3 separate regions of the Homo sapiens genome follow, and regions 1 and 2 are each reported to be linked to region 3. The links are microRNA targets in miRTarBase. Many come from high-throughput screens and were not tested one by one. Region 3 holds a microRNA gene; each other region holds the end of a gene's coding sequence.
What was found. Region 3 holds the annotated microRNA hsa-miR-212-5p (ACCUUGGCUCUAGACUGCUUACU, at 4,100-4,122, shown strand). A microRNA usually pairs through its seed, bases 2 to 8, with sites in the 3' UTR of a target mRNA and lowers its output. Matches are read on the target gene's strand: a 7mer-m8 pairs with bases 2 to 8, a 7mer-A1 pairs with bases 2 to 7 and ends in A, and an 8mer does both.

Region 1: miRTarBase lists ICA1L as a target of hsa-miR-212-5p. Seed matches in the 3' UTR shown: 7mer-m8 at 4,036-4,042.
Region 2: the mRNA of UNC13A is a reported target of hsa-miR-212-5p. Seed matches in the 3' UTR shown: 7mer-m8 at 4,914-4,920 and 7mer-m8 at 4,234-4,240.

The regions. Positions count from the first base shown.
Region 1 is chr2:202,772,420-202,779,808 of GRCh38, reverse strand. ICA1L (islet cell autoantigen 1 like) reads left to right here. Exons shown (of 13, transcript NM_001288622.3): 13 at 161-6,633. The coding sequence ends at 276. It also overlaps the pseudogene PIGYP1. Among named protein-coding and RNA genes, the nearest start is that of ICA1L, 96 kb to the left of the region's middle.
Region 2 is chr19:17,601,022-17,608,919 of GRCh38, forward strand. It overlaps UNC13A (unc-13 homolog A), which reads right to left. Exons shown (of 44, transcript NM_001080421.3): 44 at 315-5,333. The coding sequence ends at 5,033. Among named protein-coding and RNA genes, the nearest start is that of COLGALT1, 49 kb to the left of the region's middle. RefSeq lists enhancers at 3,896-4,800, 4,801-5,705 and silencers at 4,790-5,049, 5,420-5,639.
Region 3 is chr17:2,046,552-2,054,449 of GRCh38, reverse strand. MIR212 (microRNA 212) reads left to right here and starts at 4,070; the gene lies at 4,070-4,179. It overlaps MIR132 (microRNA 132), which reads left to right and starts at 4,442; the gene lies at 4,442-4,542. LOC124903896 (a long non-coding RNA gene) reads left to right here and starts at 4,501. Exons shown (of 2, transcript XR_007065576.1): 1 at 4,501-5,289; 2 at 5,692-5,743. RefSeq lists silencers at 314-783, 3,787-3,936, 3,947-4,746 and an enhancer at 2,346-3,241.

The DNA of each region.
Region 1 (7,389 bases), not on the chromosome of region 3:
AAAAAAAAATCTTAAAGGGACTATAGTTGATAGATTATTGTCAGTTATCTTAATTTTTTCTTAATCCAAAAGAAGCACCTACTTCAAAATCATAAATATGGTACAAAAACATGATTTCAAAACTGAATCTCTTTAATGTATTTTTTTTCTTTTTTAATAGCCCCCAACAATGGCAACCAAGACATGTCAGCCTGGTTCAATCTGTTTGCAGACTTGGATCCACTTTCAAACCCAGATGCTATTGGACACTCAGATGATGAACTTCTTAATGCTTGACTGAAGTTATAATGTCACTTCAGTGGCCTTGAGACATCAATTTTGCAACGTATTTCCTTCGTGGAAAGGATTTAGATTGTAACCCGCACACAAAAGCACGGTGTTTGTGAATATAACACCTGTCAGCCAACTTTAGACAGATGGTAAAGACCACATTTGAATAAGTACACATCTTTCATATCTTGGATTTGCAGCTGTTGGTACTATGTGGAAAATATTAGAAACTTCTATGTGGAAAATATTAGAAACTACAGAGTTTGCGATATTTAGATACTGAAATTTATGTCAAAATAACGGCTAGGAATAATTCTGTCAATATGGAGTTGAGCTTATTTCTTTGGAAACCCTTTTAAGTTGCCTTGCTGGCTGTGAGAATTTTATATGTGGATAACAAAGATAGATAGATAGCATGTAAATTGGGTTGTGGTTTGGGGTCAGTTTTTAAATGAAATAGTAGCGAGGAGGATTTTCTGTTTTGGAAAACACCATTAGAACCAGACCAGCTTTGTTTTGGGTTAGAGAGAGTAAGATTTGAGAACTCAGTTTGCTTTAATGAAATCACAGAGAAACTTGGTACTTGTTTTTCTTCATTTGGAGGCTAAAATGTAATGTTTTTTCATTCATACAAAATAATGGACACTCCCTAATTCCATTATTAAATCTTGAAGGGGAAGTAGCAGGATAATTAATTTGCTAAGCCCATCCTCTGCAGAAACAGAAAAATCTATCTTCCCATCTCCTAAAACTCAGAATGCACAGTAATACTTAAGGCTTGTACAAGTGTCTTCAGACCCACTTTTTCATACACTTGCTATATAGTAGTATGCAGTATTTATATTATTCCTGAAAATAAAATGAGGGGAGAATATTCCCTAAGCAACTGGCAATAGTATTCCTGAAATACCTAGAAATTTCTATCTGAATGAGGGAGACACTTATGAACACCTTATCCTTACATATATTTGCATACTTATCTCATATTTTGTGACATAATTATTTAACCCAGAATACTTTCTGGCAGACATACAGAAAGCTCTGTGTGATCAATAAGGGAGTGTCTCATTTTTCTACTTCCCTCTTTCTGTGGGTGACATGATCTGAGGTTCTATTTGATTACTAAGCAAAATCTGTTACCCCTACAGGGTTTAGAACCTAAGTATTAGAGAGGAAGGCTATTTAATGGAAGTTAGTGTAAGCTGATAAAAACGTAGCTACCGTACACACACATCAATCACTCAATTTCCTGTCCTTTTAAATTGCCCACCCTTTAATTTTGAAGCAATTTCCCAAGTGTGTGTTTGTTTTATATTTGTCATCCAGTCCATTGCATTTCCATAAGAAGACATTTTGACTGGCTGGGTGCGGTGGCTCACGCTTGTAATCCCAGCACTTTGGGAGGCTGAGGCAGGCGGATCACGAGGTCAGGAGATGGAGACCATCCTGGCTAACATGGTGAAACCCCGTCTCTACTAAAAATACAAAAAATTAGCCAGGCGTGGTGGCACGTGCCTGTAGTCCCAGCTACTCCGGAGGCTGAGGCAGGAGAATGGCGTGAACCCGGGAGGCGGAGCTTGCAGTGAGCTGAGATGGCGCCACTGCACTCCAGCCTAGGCAACAGAGCAAGACTCCGTCTCAAAAAAAAAAAAAAAAAAAAAAGACATTTTAACTAAGTTATTCACAGTAGCTTCCATGTGCTCTTAGTTCTATTCTAAACAGGCTTATTTAGAAAAGGATTGCTTGTAATGTTTGTCATGGTACATAGAAAACATTGGACCAGAGTAGGTAAAATGCAGTCCATGTCCCATCCATAGCCATCTACAATAGTAACTGCCCACAGGCTCTCCAGAAAACTACTACAATGGCCAAGTACAGTATAGGCTGGAAAGACCTTATCTGAAGGTCAGAAACATTGACTCAGAAAAAAGGTATGAAGTCTTTCCATAAAATCTTTTCACAATATTACTCCTATTTCTTTTAGATTTTAATGAGCCATTACTTATCTCTTCAGAAGACTTAAGTCTTCCTTTATACTCAGTGAAATTTCCCAGAATGTAATACTGTCACTGTTCTGCCAAGTTCCAATCACCAAGATCATGATTACGAATCCCAATCTGAATTCTATACCCATGGTGACTCTGATGCTCTCAACTTTTGAGTGCCTCAAAAAATGCTAAAACTTTGGCTGGGCATGGTGGCTCACGCCTGTAATCCCAGCACTTTGGGAGGCCATGGCGGGTGGAACATTTGAGGGCATGAGTTCGAGACCAGCCTGGCCAACATGGTGAAACCCTGTCTCTACTAAAAATACAAAAATTAGCCAGGTGTGGAGGTACATGCCTGTAATCCCAGCTACTCAGGAGGCTGAGGCAGAAGAATTGCTTGAACCCAGGCGGCAGAGGTTGCAGTGAGTCGAGATTGCACCACTACACTCCAGCCTGGGCAACAGAGAGCGACTCTCTCAAAAAAAAAAAAAAAAAAAAAAAAAAAAGCTAACTTTATGTCTTGAGAGTTTGTACCATTTTTCTTTGTAGTGGTCACCTTGCTAATGCATTAGTTCTGAGATATTTATCTCCCTCACATGTGTGCAAGGAAGTCCCTGTTATCGAATACAGATACTTTAACAAGCAGACAAAGCAGAAACCCAAAGTCCATACTAGGAACACCCTAAATTTTCCAAAAGCAAAAGTTCTCCCGAAATGGAGACATACAAGGGACTTTTATTATTCTGTTACTAGTTTCTATAACATTTCTTCTTTCAACAGAGTATATGTTTCCCATTTAACCCAGAGCAACATTAACTTCCTTAGCAAGTCCAGTTCTAACTTCCAACAAGTCCAACCACTGTTTTTGAAGAGCATATCAGTAACTATATTAAGATGAAGGTAACCACATTCGTATTTTCTCAAGATTAGTTATTTGAAGCTCAGCAGTTTTTGTGGTCAGAAAGAAATTTTGCTCTATTAAACCAATACTGCTAATATAAAAAACCACCACACTGAAGAAACGAGGGAAAGGACGGGATAAGCACAGAACAGAGAATGACTGGTTGCTTTTTGTCTCAATCTAGATAATCCATTCAATAAGAAGTAAATTAATTATCCTTAACCAATGGTAGGCTGAGAACAACCCTCAAAATAGATATTTTTTATGTTAAATGGGGAGAAATATCTATACTTTATGTTATACTGGATAAAAATGTGTTTTAAGTCTAAAAAAAACCAGACGAGCTAAACTTTGCCTAGTGTGTCTACAACCATTTTTTAGGAGACGCAGGAATACCAGGGCATAATAAGATCAGATTGGTGTAATTTTGTATGTTTTTGAAATCCTTCATTAATTGTAGAACCTTGATATGATTAGAAACAAACTGTATTTCAACAAACAGGTTTCAGTATTTGCACACTGAAAAAGTGTTTTGTATTTTAACTATAAATATTTCACGTATCTGTATAGACCATCTAGAAATGTAGAGGTCTTACAGCATTAGAACGAAGGAAGTTTACATGTGCTCTATCTATTTTTCTGAGCCTCTTTTAATAAAGATTGCAAGAAGGCATAAAACAAGAGTTTGTTTCCTGAAGTTTTTAGTACAATTATTGTTTTCCTATTCAAAAACTTGGGTTTTACCTCAAGATCATAGTATTAGGAAAGTACATTGAGTTGATACGGACATGGGAGAACGAAAATAAAACCAGGGCAATTAATATCCTTGTAAGGCCAGGCGCGGTAGCTCACGCCTATATAACAGCACTTTGGGAGGCCAAGGCAGGCAGATCACTTGAAGTTGGGAGTTTGAGACCACCCTGGCCAACATGGTGAAACCCCATCTCTATGAAAAATATAAAAATTAGCTGGGCATGGTGGCAGATGCCTGTAATCCCAGCTACTTGGGAGGCTGAGGCAGGAGAATCGCTTGAACCCGGGAGGTGGAGGTTGCAGTGAGCTGAGATCAGGCCATGCACTCCAGCCTGGGTGACAGAGTGAGACTCCGTCTCAAAAGAAAATCCTTGTGAGATGAATTCGTTCTTATTTCATATACAAGGGGACTATGTAAGATATGGGAAATAATATAATGTACGTTATTTATGTAAATACTTTCAGTAACAAAAACTAACAAATATCAAAAATCTGAGCCTAGACACAAACAATTAAATATAAGCCATAGTATGTAACCTGACTTATTGAAGGCAGGAATAAAAAGAAGAGAGCCAGAATTGATTCAGTTATTTTTGTCTTCCATAGTGTTGGCAGGGCCCTGCATTTCTCTACCTTGAGCAATGAAGCAGTCCCAGAATTTTGGAATATAGAAATTAGGAAGGAAAAACGAACTTTAAAATATTAATTTAGTAGAACTGAAAGTAATGCATTTCATGCAACAGTAAAGTGCTTAAACATGGCAAAGAAAACTAAGGGACAAGATAAGAAAAATGGTTGGTAAAGATGGGTCACATCCAGAAGCCCAACATAAGCTATTTTTCCATCTTTTTCTGTACCATTTAAAAGACTACTAAAGAGTTCAAAACAAACTGTCCTTGGCATTTAAAGTCAAAACATGGTTCTTCACTCAGTGGTGTAAATTAACTACTCATTGGCCAAAGAGTAAATACAAAAAGGAGATGAAGTTCTGACTGGTGTTGTGGGTGAGATTTTGCAGTGTATGTTTTTACATTTGTAGTGTACGTTTTAAACTTCCGGTTTTCTTGCTGCCTCAACATCTCCACAAACAGGCTGTGAGCACCTGGCCCAGTGTGATATGGGTGGCCCCTGCCACAAGTTTCCCTTGCTACCTTGCCCATGACCTAGTAACATTTAAATGCACCAGTGAAATTCTCTTTTTCTTGTGTGCTTCTCCCTGACCCAAAGGCTCCTGCCCATGTCTTAGGCCTCTCCGCTCCCCACCTGCTTGGCTGAGCCCCCTCCCATGTGACCCCCTCTCAGCATGCAGTGACTGGTCTCTCTAGGACCTGTGAGTATATTACAACTTTTTTTCCTGTGTCTCTCCTGTGATATCTCTTGTGGCTAAACCTCACTGACCATAACCTAAAAAAACACATACAAAAAACATGAAAGAAAAAGTTGTTTCTTGAGCTGGCCTGGACGAACGGGGAGCCAGGGGCTCGACCCTGGCTGTTGGAGGCGCAGTGAGGCCTGGTCTCCGGCTGCCAGACCACGCTGAGCGGAGCGCGCGGCAGGCTCGCCTCAGCGCTGCGGGGAACGCGCGCGCCGCCGTCCGCGGTCGCCCGTAGGTGCCTGCACGCGTCGGGGTCACGGCCTTTGGCCGACAGGAGCGAGAAGACTCAGGAGCCGCCCCGCGCCTTCGATCCGGCGCTGCTGGAGTTCCTGGTGTGCCCGCTCTCCAAGAAGCCGCTCAGATATGAAGCATCAACAAATGAATTGATTAATGAAGAGTTGAGAATAGCTTATCCAATCATTGATGGGATTCCTAATATTATCATATTAGGCAGCTAGGATGACACATCAAAGAAGCAAGAAGTGGAGCAGCGCTAGTTCATAATTTAAAAAAATAAAACAGCCAACTCTTCTTAGTACCATATACCTTTTAAAACACAGTGGCAAGTAATAAGCGGAAGAGAAGAATCTTTCTGTCTCTTTCTACGTTGACTGTTCTTATTCCACTGGTTTATTTAGCAGGACTGTTCCACTCAGCCTCTGTAGAAGAAAACTTCCCACAGGGCTGCACTTGCACAGCTAGCCTTTGCTTTTACAGCCTGCTCTTGCCTATTACCATACCGGTGTATGTATTCTTCCACCTTTGGACCTGGATGGTTATTAAACTCTTCATGCATAACTGATGCAACTAGAGTCAATATGCTGTATATATTAATGATAGCTCTTGGGCATCTATCTCTGAAAGCTCAAATGGATGGAATTTAGTTTGTGGGAAAGAGGCTTTGCTTTGAGCATATCAGGCTTAGGACTGTGGACGGCTTAAGTTGCAGACGCTTCTTTTATTGTACTCTTGTTCTGCCCGTGTTTTTTGAAGGCTCTGACATAACTGCTTTATCAGAAGAAACATTTTGACAGTGTCTTGTTGGAGATAAACATCCCTAATTGACATGTGATGACTACTTCTTATTCCATTCATCTAAGAGTCATTGAAATTTTGTTTTCTTTGTTTGTTTAGCTTCAAGGTCTTTGGTAGTCACATGTTAGGGATGACTGAAATAATTCCAAAGGAGTGATGTTGGAATAGTCCCTCTAAGGGAAAGAAATGCATTTGAACGAATGTGATATAAAACCACATAATCAAATAGAAATTTCATGTACTTACAAAAATTTAGTTTGTAAAATTACCTTCATTTCTTTGACATTAAATGCTTATATTAGCAATAAAGATGTTGACACTTTCTCATAAAAAATTTAAAAAAATAAAAAGTTGTTTCTTTTTTCCCATTTTAAAGTAATATCTTCTGAAAGAAAAAAATCAGCCATAGCACTACCATCTAGGAATAACCACTACTAACATATTTTTGGTTATTTTTTTGTAGTGCCTTCAAGCACACATTTGAATTGTGATCCGGATGATTTTACTGTCCCCTCTCTCTTAAATGGGCATGCCAAGTCACAGAGATTTAAAAACCAATTATAGGCCGGGTGAGGTGGCTCAAGCCTGTAATCCCAGCACTTTGAGGGCCGAGGCAGGCAGATTGCCTGAGGTCGAGAGTTTGAGACCAGCCTGGCCAGCATGGTGCAACCCCGTCTCTACTAAAAATACAAAAATTAGTCGGGCCTGGTGGCAGGCGCCTGTAATCCCAGCTACTGGGGAGGCTGAGGCAGGAGAATCGCTTGCACCCAGGAGGTGAAGCTTGCAGTGAGCCGCGATTGCCCACTGCACTCCAGCCTGAGCAAAAAACCAACTATATAAGTCTTTCCCTCAAAAAAGCCAGGTGAATTAAAAACCCACCAGAAATGTGACTGAAGTTCGTTTTCGCCTCTCTAAAACATGTGCTCCCCAAATTAAAGAGTATTTCTTTTTATTTTCTGCAGCTATAGCAACATTAAAAACCAGAGAGTTTGAGAATGTGTCACTAACATCCTTGATCAGGAGCCGATAACTAACCAGCTCCTTTCTTTTGACCCTCTGAACTAAGC
Region 2 (7,898 bases), not on the chromosome of region 3:
TCCAGCCTGGGCAACAGAGACTTCATCTCAAAAAAAAAAAAAAAAAGCAATGGTTGCAAATGTTCTGAGTTCAAGTCCCAGCTCCATCTCTTCCTGGCTATGTGATCTGAGCAAGATCTTGTCTCTCTGTACTTCAGTTTCCTTCTCTGTAAAATGGGGATGACTCCAGTTGCGGATGAGCCGCGTTCATGGGCAAGCAGTGTGTTCTACTGAGTCTGCGCCTACCTAGTAGGTGCTAATCGTACGTGAGGTTTTTGTTTTTGTTTTTTTGCTGATAAAGGAATGCAAGGAGGAGGCAACCACGTGTCCAAGGCTGTGTGTGGTTTTTCTTTTTTTAATGTCTGCTGTTAATAAAATATTTTTACAGAGACCAAAAAGTCAGAATAGTGCAAAACATCTCAACACCATGCATTCATGACCACTTCTCGTTTGTGTTAAACATTTGTTCCAAGTCACATATTTACAGAGAAATGAAGGCGTCTGTGCAGACACTGGACCGACGGGGTAGAATCAAAACAAAACAAAAAACAAACAACGTTTTGATTTCACATCTGCAATCACATGCTAAGAGTTGTGTGGAGGGGAAGCCTCCCCGGACTGCTTGGCCGGTTTGTGGGGGTCTGAGGGAGCACGAGACAGGGGTGGACAGGGGTCAAGTCCCCCTGGCTGTGTGGTTGGGGATGATCAGGGGACCCTCCGCCTGTGACCTGTGTCTCCAGAGAGCCACTATGGCTGGACGGGGGTAAGGGGTGGGGTGTTACTTGACACAGTCAACTTGATTTTTCTCTGAAACAATAAAAGGCAAAGAGAAAAGCAACACGTGTCAGCAAAGACAACTTTGGTCCTCAACGATTCTTAGGAAAGGATTCTGGGGAGCAGACGGGGTTGTGATCCGGGACTAAGGCCCTCCCCCAACTTCCCCAGGGTGGCAGAGTTCCGGGAGGCCCCAGGTTGTCCCCATCTGCAAAATCGACAGCACATGGGGTAGGGGTAGGGGACAGAAAGGCTCTGAGATCCCAGCCGAGAGAGGTCCCAAGGATTTCTAGTTGGGTGTTTAGTTTTTTGCATCTCTGATGGGGGCATGGTGAGGTCTCAGGCTCTGGGGCCTGAGAGAGGAATTGGGGGTGTGGACAGGCACCTCCTCATTTTATGCAAATCATTCGAGGACAGACTGGTAAGAGTGAACAGATCCTTCTTTCTTCAGGACACCCTCTTTACTTCCCCCGACACTCCCTGCCTTGGTCTCTGCATTTATCTTTCTCTGTATATTTCCACCTCTATGTCTCTCTCCATCTCTGTCTCTCTCCGTCCTCATCGGGGCGTGATCTCACCCTCTGTCTCTGTGTTTTCTACTCTATTCCTCTTGGTCAGGGGACTTTGACTCTGAGGCATCCCTCAATGTCACCCCTTTAACCCTTGCCCTGCCACAGGCCAACCTTCTTGTGCTGTTTCCCCGATTCATGGAAATGTGGGGCCAGCTCCTTGCATAAAGCGAGGTCCAGGGTTCAGAACCCTGGAGGTGTCATCCAAGGCCGGGCTCTGTGTCCACTTGCTGGGTGGCGTTGAGGAAAGCCCTGCTCCTCTCTGGGCTTTGTTCTGCCAATACAGGAACTTCCTGATTTCAAAAGGCTTTCAGCCCCCTGGACTCCTTGTCTTTTCTCTGTCCGTGTCTCAGCCATGTCCACTCTCTGTCCCATGTGTCAGGCTCAGACACCTCCTATGTGCCCAGGTCCGTGTGGAAGGGGAAGGTTGGTACGGACAGACATGGACAGACATGCATGCGGATGTGTATTCTCACACTGACCCTGCCCCAATACATAATTCCACTAGGCGTAGACTCCCTGTCACCCACTTGTGCCCAGCCTGTGCTAGGTAAAGTTGGGGGTCCTGAGAGTCCTCAGACCCCAGTCTGGGAGAAACAGAGCTGGACAGAGAAACCCCCAGTCCCATGGCATCAGGCTGGACTGGAGGAGAGACGGTGGCTGGGAAAGTCCTGAGGGGAAGGAAGGAGGGTTTTCTCCAAGAGGGGTTTCCGTGATGGGTTTTGAAGGACGAATAGGAGTTCTCTGGGGGAAAGAAAAGAGGGTGGAAATTGCAAAAACAGTTCTAGCCTGGGAGTCAGGAAAACTCATTCAACAAATATTCCCTGAAGAAGCTTGTTTCCTTCACATGCCTGGGCCATTGCTGGGGAACCCTAAACACACACACACACACACGGAGGTCTTGAACAGAAAGACTCCTAAGGAATCTTTTGGGAAATAACTTGGCTCTCTCAGGCAGCTCGACTTCCCCATTTCTTTCCAGCCATCCAAAAATCTTCCAGATCACCCTCACCCCAGGTCACAGATCACTTCCCCTTTGGGCTCTATGGGTTACAACCCTGAATCATCCATCCACCCGACCCCTACCCTCAGCCATGTCATGGTTCGAAATTCACATCTGCTCCTCAGTCCATATAACAGTCACATAAGCTTATCCCTGGCTACAACTTCCCAACCCTGTATGAGAATTTGCATTTTAACCTTTGGTTCAGAACCTCCAGTTACCTGCACCTGTCTGAATTTAAGGGACATGCAACATCTCCAAGCAAATTAGAAAGTGGCGCCACTTCTTCCAGACACTTGGGCCATTCACATGTCGGGAAACCAACGTCACAAACATACAACACTCAATATCTAGGATTTGCACGTGGCCTTCTTAGCAATGCCAAACCCTTGGGCACTGTGCAACTGGGACAACTGTACTCAGCAGCCCTAGAGCTCATCTAAGGGCAGGATTTTTTTTTTTTTTTGGTGGGGTAGAGGGGAGGGAATGGAGTATTGTTCTGTTGCCCAGGCTGGAGTGCAGTTGTGTGATCACGACTCACTACAACCTCTGCCTCCAGGGTTCAAACAATTCTCCCGCCTCAGTCTCCTGAGTAGCTGGGACTACAGGCATGCACCACTGCACCCAGCTAATTTTTGTATTTTTAGCAGAGATGGGGTTTCGCCATGTTGGCCAGGCTGGTCTCAAACTCCTGACCTTAAGTGATCTGCCAGCCTCGGTCTCCCCAAATGCTGGGATTATAGTCATGTCCCCACAGCTATAGGTGTCTTTTCAACACAGCCTTCAGAATCTTTCCAAGAATCCATTTCAGTGTCCCCAAAGCACCTCCACCTCTCCTCACTGGTTTTAGTCTTCACAAAACAGCTTTTGCAGGCTGGAATCCAGTCTCTCCCCAACTTAAAACAGCTCCTGGAGCTCCCCAACTGTCTTAGAATAAAAGTAAAACTCCTCAGGACTGCGTACGAGGCCCTGCCTGGTCTGATGCTTCTGCAGATCTCCCCAACCCCAAGGCTCCTCACGATCCCCCTTGCTGGCTCAGCTCCAGCCGTGCCACCCTTCTCGTTGTTTCAACAGTTCTTCTCTCCTGGCCTTCGCACGTGCTGTTCCCCAGGCCTGGAGCTCTTTTCTCTCTAGTAAGTGGTTCCCTCTCATTCTTCACCTCGGAAAGCCTCCCCATCTGATGTTCTATCCTCCAGAAACCCAGCTACTCAGCTCACCCCGTTTTCATTTCTCCCTAGCACAGCAAAATCTTGTCCTTCCCAATCCAGCAGAAAAAGGCGTGCCATACACACATGTGGAAAAGCAGATCCCAGAGCAAGTGTAGTCCACGCTGAACTTTCCCCTAAGGTCCTATGTGCACCAGGTAACTCCAGCCAGGTCACTGTAACTTTGCTCATTGGAGAAAGAGCTTCCAGCTGGCAAGAGGGCCATCTGAGGTATCCTGTGGCTTGGGTGTTTGAATCAATGAATAGGCTCTTGGAGACTAAGCTCTCACTGTGTCACTGTGTTTGTGTTTCTCTCTCTCTCATTCTCTTTCTCTCATTCTCTTTCTCCCCCCTAGAGTTTCTGGTCTCCTTCTGTTCTTTCCTATTTGGAAAATTCTGGAAAAGGAAGAAGGGATGGAGAAACCTGGGACCAGGGGATCCCAAATTCTCTTTTGTGGTGGGAGGCCCTCATGGCATCCCCCATGGAGATCCCAGGAGAAAGGGCTGAGGGCAAAGGTCCTGCTTGGCAGCCGGAGAAGGAAAGGCGAAGTAGGGGTCTTGGCCTGGAATTCCCACCCCTTGGAGGAGGCCGAGGGGGAATTAGCAGCAATAGGGAGCTGTGTCAGGTCATCCCGATCTCAGCCCACCCTTCCATGGGGCACACAGGCCTAAGGGAGGGGCACAGAGGGTATGGCACCTGGAACCTTGGCCAAGTCTCAAGCAGCTCTTTAAGCCTCAGTTTTGCCATCTGTCAAATGGGTGTGTTGAACTCTATGATATGAGGACTGGGTTTGTTGGGGGAGAGGGAGAGGCAAACTCCCAAAGGGAAGTAGGGGCAGCGTGGGGAACCAGAGCCGTCCCCTCGGCCCCCAGGGTTTGGGCGCCCAAGGGCGCATGTGCTTTTGAAATCCCATCCTCCCCCCTCCCCCCATTTATTTTTTGCACAAATATCTAAAGGGACTCCGGTATTCCGGGGCCCTCCAACCAGCATCCTGGTCCCTCCAGTCCCCAGGCCACCTAGAGGGGCGCTCCAGAGAGCCCTACCCCTTGCCCAGGGCCCCCCCTCGAGGGAGCTGAGATTTCCATACTTGGCAATTGGTCTGGGGTCCCAGGGGTCTGGGTCCCATCTTATGGCTTTTCCAGGGGACATGAGGTGGTGCCTCCCGGTACCAGAGCCCCGGGATGTGGCCTCCTCCATAGGGACGAGGTTTCCCCCATCCCAGCTCAAAATGCCCCCTAGGTGCTGGGGGCGTGGCCTCAAGTTGGGGATGTGGCTCCTTCCTTCGTCGCGCCCTTGGGCGTGGCCTCCCGAGAGGGCGGGGCATCCTCCATTCCTAATTCCCCAAAAGGGAAAGCTGAGTCAAGGGCGTAGGCGCAGCCCACCCTTGGCGTGGAGCCCCCCGAGCCCCGCCCCTGGGGAGGTCCCACCAAGGCGCAAGCCCCGTCCCTCCCCGCCCAGCGCCCTCCGCGCAGGCGCAGTGCCGCTCGGCCGACCGCCCGCGCTAAGGCGCAGGCGCGGCACCGCCCTCCTCGGCGGAGCGCGTGTCCGACTTGAGCTTCACGAACTCCTTGGCCACCTCGTCGTTGCTGCGCTGCGAGAGGATTCGCAGCACCGTGAGGCCCGTGTCGTCCATGTGGATGCGGCGGCCGAGCGGCAGCCAGCAGGCGGCGCTCCCGCGCTGGGCCAGCTCACGCAGCTGCAGCACGGCCAGCCCCACCGTGCGGTCCTCGCGCGCGAAGCAGTAGTCCTTGACGCACACCTGCAGCTCATAGCACTCGGGACCCGCGTCGGCGCTCAGCGTGCTGCGTGGGGAGGGGCGGAACGTGAGACAGGCCACACCTACTGTGATGCCCCGCCCACGGCCCCGTCCCCACCGCATTTGCGGGCCACGCCCACACCGGGGTGCCCACACCTGTCACCTCCCACGCTACGCTAGCCCCGCCCCTGCCCCGTTACTTGACCTACAACCCTGTGCTTGGCCGCGCCCACAGCAGCTGACCCCGAGCTGGGCCACGCCCACGCCTGTTCTTCCCATTTTTCCACCCACCGAAAAATGACCGCATAGTTTTACATCCAGCTCCCGCCCCTCAGACACCGCCCTGCAAGGCCATGCTCCCACCCTGAGATACCCGCGCCTGTGCCCTCTGCCGGCTGAACTGCTGCCCGCACGGCCCTGCCCCTAATGTCCCACCCAGAAGCTCTTTAACCAGGCTCTCCTCTAGACCCACGACGTGGCCCTTTCCCCAGCCCCCCACACCCCCAGCCCACCCCTCTTACTTCCAAGATGCCCTCCAGACATGAGCCTGCCCTGGTGCCTCACCATGGGTGACACCGCCTCCCGCATGCCCCTCACCTGTGCTCCTGCCCCTAAGCAGTCCCAGTGACCTGCCCTGACGCCAGCTGGATAAGAGCCCCTCCTACAGGGTCACGCCCAGCTTCTCCCTCTTGTCCACCTCCCAGGTTGTACCTCTATCCCTGAAGTACTCCGGCCCACCCTGGCTGACATCTGACCTCCCACTAGACCATGCTTCTCCTCCTGAGTATCCCCTAAAGGGGCCAATCGCCCCAAAACCTTCTGACCAAGAGCCCTGTGCTGACACGACATGGAACTGGCTTCAATCTTGTCCCATAAGAGCTCCCAGGCCCCCTAGATAATACCAGCTAACCAGCTCTGATTTACCCTTACCCCTGTGCATTTTTATTTATTTTTATTTATTTTTATTTTTTGAGTGGGCATCTCCCTCTGTCACCCAGGCTGGAGTGCAGTGGCACAATCGCGGCTCACTGCAACCTCTGTCTCCCGGGTTCAAACGATTCTTCTGCCTCAGCCTCCCTAGTAGCTGGGATTACAGGCATGCACCACCACACCGGGCTGATTTTTTGTGTTTTTAGTACAGATGGGGGTGGCGGGGGGGGGGGTCTCACCATGTTGGCCACGCTGGTCTCGAACTCCTAACCTCAGGTGATCCACTGCCTTGGCCTCCCAAAGTGTTGGAATTACAAGCGTCAGCCACCGCGCCTGGCCCATAGTTTTTTGTTTTTTTAAAGACAGGGTCTCGCTATGTCGGTCACCCAGGCTGGAGTGCAGTGGCACAATCATAGCTCATTGCAGCCTTAAACTCCTGAGCTCAAGCGATCTTCCTGCCCCAGCCTCCCAGGTAGCTGGGACTACTTTCTTCTGCACTTCTGTCTCCTAAGAACATCCAACAACATTGCCCTGCCCCAGTGCTCTGTGAGGCTGACACTCGACCCAAGGATCTACCCCGGATGACCCCAACTCTACCCTTGCTAACCACCACCATCCATCTACCCCCGTGAACAGACTTTTTTTTTTTTTTTTTTTTTGAGGCAGAGTCTTGCTCTGTCGCCCAGGCTGGAGTGCCGTGGTACAATCATGGCTCACTGCAACCTGTGCCTCCTGGGTTCAAGCGATTCTCGTACCCCTCACCCTCTGGAGTAGCTGGGATTACAAGCGCCTGCCACCACACCCGGCTAATTTCTGTATTTTTTATTTTTTTGAGTCTCACTCTGTAGCCCAGGCTGGACTGCAGTAGCGCCATCTTGGGTCATTGCAGCCTCCACCTCCTGGGTTCAAGCGATTCTCCTGTCTCAGCCTCCCGCGTAGCTGGGATTACAGGCGCCCACCACAACACACAGCTAATATTTTTTGTATATACTATATTATATACAATATATAATATATGAAATATATAATATATATACTTTTATATATAATATAATATATACTATATATAATTTTATTTATACTATATAATATATACTATATATAATTTTATATATAATATAAATATATATTATATATGTATATAAATATATATATATTTATATATAATATATAAAAATATATTTATATGATATATATTTATTATATATTATATAATATAATATAAATACATATTTTATATATAATTATATAATATAAATACATATTTTATATATAATTATATAATATATATTTCTTTTAGACGGAGTCTTGCTCTGTTGCCCAGGCTGGAGTGCAGTGGTGCGATCTCGGCTCACTGCAAGCTCTGCCTCCCGGGTTCACGCCATTCTCCTGCCTCAGCCTCCCGAGTAGCTGGGACTACAGGCGCCCGCCACCACGCCTGGCTAGGTTTTGTATTTTTAGTAGAGACGGGGTTTCACCGTGTTAGCCAGGATGGTCTCGATCTCCTGACCTCGTGATCTGCCCGCCTTGGCCTCCCAAAGTGCTGGGATTACAGGTGTGAGCCACCACACCCAGCCATATTTTATATTTTTAATAGAGATGGAGTTTCACCATGTTGGCCAGGCTGGTCTCGAACTCCTGGCCTCAAGTTATCTGCCCACCTTGGCCTCCCAAAGTGTTG
Region 3 (7,898 bases):
GAACTTTCGGGTCTCCTAAAGGAACCCACGACGAGTCATCAGGGCGACTGGAAGTGGCTGGACAGCGCCTCCGGGGGGTCCAAAGAAGTAACCATGGGGCCCTAGAATCCCCCTGTACGCCGTTTTGAAGAATCCCGCGTGGACTTCTTCTCCAACCCACCCGCCCGAAGGAAACAACAGGGGCGCCTGCGGCTGGGACCCCGCAAGGTCCCGCGCCCCACGTGAAGGTCAGGTTTGTGTGGGTGACGTCTCTTCTGGGAGAAAGGGGACCCCGCACTGTCGCGCCGCTGCTCGCAGTACTACTCCGGAAGTGGCCCCGTGCAGCCCCGCCGCGCACCAAGCCTCCTGCGAACGCCGGATCTCCGCGGCCCACGCTCCGCCTCCGCCCCGCACCTCCTGACCCCCGCCCACACACGGCGTGGAGCGGGGGGGGGGGGGGTCCCCGAGAACTCCGCCGCTTCCGATTGGCTGCGCCTCCCTCCACCGCGGAGCGCGAGGGGCTGGGGCGCTGCGTTACCATGGCAACCGGTGAGGTGCGCCCAGATCCTGTCCCTCCGAGGCCTTGGAGAGCTTAGCAACCGCGCTCGCCGCCCCCCGCGCTGTCCTCTGGCCCCCATGGCCCCGCCAGAGGTACCGGCTGAGTCACCGGGCGAGGGGCAGCGGGCGCGGCTACCAGCGGCCCCCGAGCGACACCAAGGTCTCGGGCGCCCCCCGGAGGCTCCCTTTGCTGCGCAGGCGACTTCACGGCTTCGGTGCCTGGCGGAGGCTTCGGTCCAAACGAGTCCGCCTGATTCCCGCCGCTGCCTGAGTCCGCCCCATGTTCTGGATCCATCTTACCCACTCCCTCTCCCATGTCTCCCCATAGCATCCTCACTTTAGAAGCAGTGAGGTCCCAAAGAGGAAAACGGAGGCCTCCGGAGCTGCCGGTCTCTAGGGAAGGCGGACCCCGACATCTCGCCCGAGGGACGTGCTGCGGCCTGAGGTGGAAGTTACGGAGTGTTGAGGGGAGGTGGAGAGGCTCCTCATAAGTGCTCCTAGAGCTGGGCTTTGACGGATGAATAGGAGTTCTTCTACCGAGCAGGAAGGCATTTGTGAATAACAGAATCCCTGGAACAAAGGCTAGCGGCAAGAAAACTGGAGCTCTAGTAGGCCAAATCCAGACTATGCAGGGCCTCTCTGACCCCATCTCTTTTATCTTTTCTCTTTTTGATAGAGTCAGATCCCCCACCCCCGACTTCCAAAGAGCCCCTCCGCCCCATGTATCTTGTGCAGTGGAGTCTGTGCATTGCTAACCTGCCCCAGGGGTCTGCTGTGCCCACAGTCTTTATTCTTCAGCGTTCCCCCACATCCGCTCCCCAAGTTAACTTACTGCCCCTAACCCCATCCTCAAGCCCTCATTGCTTCTGTAAGGGAGGGTCTCACAGCCCTGCCCCAGCCCAGGCCCCTAACCCCATCCTCAAGCCCTCATTGCTTCTGTAAGGGAGGGTCTCACAGCCCTGCCCCAGCCCAGGCCCCTAACCCCATCCTCAAGCCCTCATTGCTTCTGTAAGGGAGGGTCTCACAGCCCTGCCCCAGCCCAGGCCCCTAACCCCATCCTCAAGCCCTCATTGCTTCTGTAAGGGAGGGTCTCACAGCCCTGCCCCAGCCCAGGCCCCTAACCCCCTCCTCAAGCCCTCATTGCTTCTGTAAGGGAGGGTCTCACAGCCCTGCCCCAGCCCAGGCCCCTAACCCCCTCCTCAAGCCCTCATTGCTTCTGTAAGGGAGGGTCTCACAGCCCTGCCCCAGCCCAGGCCCCTAACCCCCTCCTCAAGCCCTCATTGCTTCTGTAAGGGAGGGTCTCACAGCCCTGCCCCAGCCCAGGCCCCTAACCCCATCCTCAAGCCCTCATTGCTTCTGTAAGGGAGGGTCTCACAGCCCTGCCCCAGCCCAGGCCCCTAACCCCCTCCTCAAGCCCTCATTGCTTCTGTAAGGGAGGGTCTCACAGCCCTGCCCCAGCCCAGGCCCCTAACCCCCTCCTCAAGCCCTCATTGCTTCTGTAAGGGAGGGTCTCACAGCCCTGCCCCAGCCCAGGCAGGGTGAGGACCGCCTTGCCCTCCTGTGCACTTCACTCTTCGACCTTTCTCTCCCTGCCCCGCTCTTCCGGCCATGCCTTGCACAGCCCTCCCCATCCTGGTCCAGCTCCTCGTCTGAACACACTCCTCTCATTTAGACCCTTCCTCCATCTCGATGGAGCCAGGCTGGGCCAGGACCATGCATTTCCCCGCTCCCAACCAGGGGAACTGCCCCACAAGTCATGGGCTCTCCCTGCCAATTCTGGTCTCCGGGAACATTAACTTCTCCAGGAAACCGTCCTCCTCATCCCCTGGGGGCCCCTCTTGGCCAAGCTGCTGGTCTCCTTCACTCTCTATTACCCTAACGTGAGCTCTGGGAGCGTCCATCGTGCCACAAATGGTCCGAAGGTGGGTCCTGGATGCCAGGCTCTGGAGCGTGGCACTGACAGCCTTTCCTCTCTCCCTTGCTGAGGCTGCCCATTCCTCTCACCCCTACCTCTGGCGCGTTCCCCCAGCTCCCTCATAGAGGATCCCGTTGCTCATCATTTCTGGGGAGGTTGGCCCACCTTCCCCAACTTCTCTGCCGTCCCTCGGGTCTCCAGCTCCTGGGTGGTACCTGAATCCCCGCTGGGCCTTCCCTCCCAGGCCCAGGTTCCTCCGCTAAAGACTCCTGGGCTACTTTGGGCTCCCCTACTCTTCTTCTCCCGGCCCCCGACGCCACAGCCCTCGCTGCGCCCCAGGCCCCCACGGGAGTCCAGCTTCCTCTCCTGCCCACCCTGCAGGACGAGAGGGTGGCGACACCGCAGTGGCCTTGCGGGGTGTGACGGCAGAAACGTCAGGTCCAGGAACTGAGGAGGGGGAAGGGGCTGCCACGTGAAGACCCCCAGGAGCCGCGGGGCTCCGGAAGGAGAGCGTGAATAAGCTCGAAGGGCCCGCCGCGCCCCTCCGCGCCGCCTCCCCGGCCCCAGGCCCGCGGTTCCGGAAAGTTAACCCCTTGTCGGCTGGGCAGGGGCGCGGCTCCCCCTACCCCGCCGCCGCTTCCGCGCCCCCTCCTCCCCTCCCGGTCGCCTCGGTCCCCACCCCCCGCCTCGCCACTATAAATAGCCCCTTTTCCCATTTCCTAAATTCCCCGCTGACGTCGGCAGCGCGTCAGTGTGTAGGAGCCGCGGCCGCATGAATGAGCCGCCGCACGAGTACTACGCGCGCCTATAAAAGCCGCCGCGCCGGCCAGGCTGCGGGAGGCGACCGGGCAGTGGCGACGCGGCCCGCCAGGTAAGCGGGACGGACCAGCCGCGGAGGGACAGATGTGCGGACACGGACGGGAGGACGAGGAGGGGACGGGCAGGCGGCGGGTGGGGCGGCCCCTCCGGGGTGGGGATGGGGGCGGACGGGGGGCACCGGGGTCCCCTCGCGGCTGCGGAGCCGGGGCCAGAGACGACACGAGCCCGCGCAGCACCTGCCGGCGCCCGATGGACACGCAGCTACTTCGGAGGAGCATCGAGTGGAGGACCGACCTCGGAGACCCCCCCCCGGCTTTCTTGGGGCTCCTGCGCCATTCTCCCAGGAAAGTGAGGCGAAGGTGCTGGCGCCCCAGGAGACGCGCCCCCTCCTCTCCCTCCCTGCGGCGCGGTGACTCAGCCTCGCTGCCCGGGCCGGCTGAGCGGGGGTGCAGGCGAGAGACGGACGCCCACCCCCGCTTCCCCGGCCCTCCTGGGACCCCCGCCCCGCATGGCGTCGGGCGCCCCTTCCCGGCAGGTCCCGTCCAGCGGGTCCCGCGGCGCCCACGGCTTCCCGCCTCTGCGAGCGGAGCTGTCCTCTCAGGACCGGGGGGGCGGGGCCTCCCAGGTCCCGCCCCGCCCCCACGCCCCCGCCGGAAGTGCCCCCTCTGGGACATCTTTGACGTCACGGCCCTCTGACGTCAGGGGCCGCGTGCCTGGTCGCGAGCGCCGGGCGGGGCAGGGCGGGAGACGCAGGGGAGGCGGAGCAGCAGAGCCCCCAGCCGGGGCAGCCGGGGCGACCGGGGCACCCCGCCCGGACAGCGCGCCGGCACCTTGGCTCTAGACTGCTTACTGCCCGGGCCGCCCTCAGTAACAGTCTCCAGTCACGGCCACCGACGCCTGGCCCCGCCCCAGGACCGCGGCCCCGGCCGCCGCCGCCGCGCCCGGGGACCCCCAGTCCCCGTCCCTCAGGGCCCCGCCCCCGGCCCGCTGCCTGCGCCGCCGCTGTCCGCGGTGCTGATCAACGCAGGCGCCGCCATCGGGCCGCCCCGTCCGGGTCCCTAGGGGCTGCGAGGGGCGGTGGCCCACGCGCGCTCCTCAGCCCCCGCCGCCCCGCCCGCCCCCCCGCGGCCCTGACGTCAGCCCGCCCCGCGCCGGCGCCGTCCGCGCGCCCCGCCCCCGCGTCTCCAGGGCAACCGTGGCTTTCGATTGTTACTGTGGGAACTGGAGGTAACAGTCTACAGCCATGGTCGCCCCGCAGCACGCCCACGCGCCGCGCCACGCCGCGCCCCGAGCCGCGGGCTGGGGACGCGGAGCAGAAGGAGGCGGGGGCGGCGAGTCAAGATCCCACGTGCCCGCGCGGGTGGCAGGAGGTGCTGCGCAGGGAGGCGGCCTCCCGGGGCCGGCGGCTGAGTCCACCGAGGCTCGAGCGCGCGCGTCCTGCGGAGTGCGTCTGGCGGCCAGCCTGAGGCCGTCCTGTCCTCCCGGCCAAGGTATCCCAGCCAGGGCTCGGCGAGAGAAGGGGTCGGGCTGGGACTCGGGTTCTTTCGATTTCGGTGAGAGGGAAGCCACTGGGACCAGGAGGCTTGGAAGGAGGTTTGTCTCCTGGGGCCTGAAGACAGTAGAGGGAGGAAAGTTTTCTGAGATACTCCACAGCCCCGTTCTTCCAGGAACCCCTAGCTGAAGTGGGCATTGGGCGAAGAGTAAACTCTTGAATCTTTCCCTCTGAGCTAGGAGGATAAGAAGGGTCCCCAACCCTCTGGAAGCCAATGAGCTTGTAAAGTTAACCTGGTCCGCGAAGCGTCTGAACAGATCAGCCTGCTCACCTCAGCCTATCTCTAGGTGCTGGATTCCAATCTGAGACAGTTTCTCAAATTAGCCCTAAAGAGGAGTGAATACCACAGGGGCTGAAGTCCTCTGGTGCGGATGAAGTGTGAACAAGGATCTCTAAAAATATTATTGTATATGTCGCCTGCCTCTGCCAACATCACCCACTACAGGGGATGTCTATTGAATATCAGGTGTGAGACTTCCCCAGAGATAGTGTTGGGAATGGTTAATGCAACCCAGCCCACGACACGTTAATCCAATTTTTCTTAACGTCTCACGCCCCACCCCCTCCTTCACTCCCCACCCGGCTCCTTTGTGAAGTACTTCTAAGACACTCGTGCCGGTTTCCCAGTTAATCAACACCCACATGCTAGCCATCCCACCTCCCCAGGGCCCCGAGGTCTTGCAGATTAAAACGCACTTGCTTCTGGGTTCCAGGGGATGTCAGTGGGTGGACTGCAGTGGACTGCTGGGTGTAGTGCTCTGGGAAGCCAGAGGTCCAACCTGGCATTATCAGCAACTGGTGGTTAAGGGGCCATATTCTGTTTCTGAGCTTTCTGTAAAACGGGATAATAATCTCTTCTCCTCGGCAGGTGCACTGTGAGGATTAAATAGGATCATGTAAGTAAAAATCCAAAAACAGCAGAATGTTATTTTGATCTTAAGTATTCTGTTAGGCTACTACATGTTTGTGAAGGGGTGGTGTTGGGAGGGGACCCCAGCTCTGTGCACTTAGGCAGAATGAACGGGATGTGGGGGGTACACCTTGAGCTTTAGGCTATATATATTTATTGTCTAATATATATATAATCTATATTATATATATGTTATACATACATATACTTTTATTTTTTTTCTTCTGAGACAGTCTCGCTCTGTCGCCCAGGCTGGAGTGCAGTGGCACTATCTCGGCTCACTGCAACCTCCGCCTCCCGGGTTCACTCTGGGCCTGGGGCTGTTGAGAGGTTCCTTGCTAAGGGGGTTCTCTCTCCTAAGAGCTCTAGGAATCCAAGGTGGAATCAGAGGTGGAAAACAGAAATGGTTGGGATATTCTGAGAAGAGGTCAGAATGTGGTCAGAGGGGAAAGAACCAGAGGATTGACCGTACGTCAGGGTTGTTTAGCATCTTAGAAATCATTTAGGGCAGGGCACAGTGGCTCACGCCTGTAATCCCAGCACTTTGGGAGGCATAGGTGGGAGGATCTCTTGAGCCCAGGAGTTCGAGACCAGCCTGGGCAATACAATGCGACTCCCATCTCTACAAAAAAGAAAGAAAGGAAAGAAGAAAGGAAAGAAAAGAAAGAAAATTAGTTGTGCACACCTGTAGTCCCAGCTACTTGGGAAGTTGAGGTGGGAGGATTGCTTGAGGCTGGGAGGTTGAGGCTGCAGTGAGCTGTGATTGCACCACTGTACTCCAGCCTGGATGACAGAGTGAGACCCTGTCTCAAAAAAAAAAAATCATTATTTAGGGCTGGGAGACATGGCTCATGCCTGTAATCACACCATTTTGCGGGGCGGGGCAGAGGCTGGAGGACTGCTTGAGCCCAGAAATTCGAGACCAGCCTGGGCAACATAGTGAGACCCCATGTCTTAAAAAAAAAAAAGCCAGTGTGATAGGTGGCACCTGTAGTCTCAGCTAAGCTACTCAGGAGGCTGAAGCGGGAGGGTCACTTGAGCCGAAGAGGTCGAGGCTGCAGTGAGCCATGATCCTGCACCTGGTGACAGAGGTAGACCCTGTCTTAATAATAATCCAGCCTGGCCAATATGGTCAGACTCCGTCTCTACTAATAACACAAAAAATTAGCCAGCCATGGTGGTGCTTGCCAGTAATTCCAGCTGCTTGGGAGGCTGAGGCACTAGAATCACTTGAACCCAGGAGACGGAGGTGCAGTGAGCCGTGATCGTGCCACTGAACTCCAGCCTGGGTGGCTGAGTGACACTCCGTCTCAAATAATAATAATAATAATGGTACCTACCTCATGAAGTTGTGAGATTAAACATGAAGTTGTAAGGTTTAAGCTATATATATTTATTGCCTAATATATATAAAATATATATGTGTTATATATATATAATTTTATTTGTTTTTTTCTTCTGAGATGGAGTCTTGCTCTGTTGCCCAGGCTGAAGTGCAGTAGCATGATCTCGGCTCACTGCAACGTCCGCCTCCCAGGTTCAAGCAATTCTCCTGTCTCAGCCTCCTGAGTAGTTAGGACTACAGGTGTGTGCCACCACCCCCAGCCAATTTTTGTAGTTTGTTTTTTTTTCTTTTTTTTTGGAGACAGGGTCTAGCTCTGTCTCCCAGGCTGGAATACAGTGGCACAATCACAGCTTACTGCAGCCTCAAAACTCCTGGGCTCAAGTGATCCTCCCACCTGAGCCTCCCGAGTAGCTGGGACCACAGGTGCATGCCACCACACCCAGCTAACTTTTAAATTATTTGTAGAGAGGGGGTCTCACTATGTTTCCCAGGCTGGTTCTGAACTCCTGGGCTCAATTGATCCTCATGCCTTAGCCTCCCAAAGTGCTGGGATTATAGGCATGAGCAATCGCACCTGGCCCTAAATTAGGCCGCATTAAAGCTCTTGCTTATTACAATGTCTGGTATACAGTTATTACTCAATAAATGCTCTTCTGGCCGGGTGCAGTGGCTCACACCTGTAATCCCAACACTTTGGGAGGCTGAGGTGGGCGAATCACTTGAGATCAGGAGTTCAAGACCAGCCTGGCCAACATGGCGAAACCCTGTCTCTACTGAAAATGCAAAAATTAGCTGGGAGTGGTGATGCACACCTGTAATC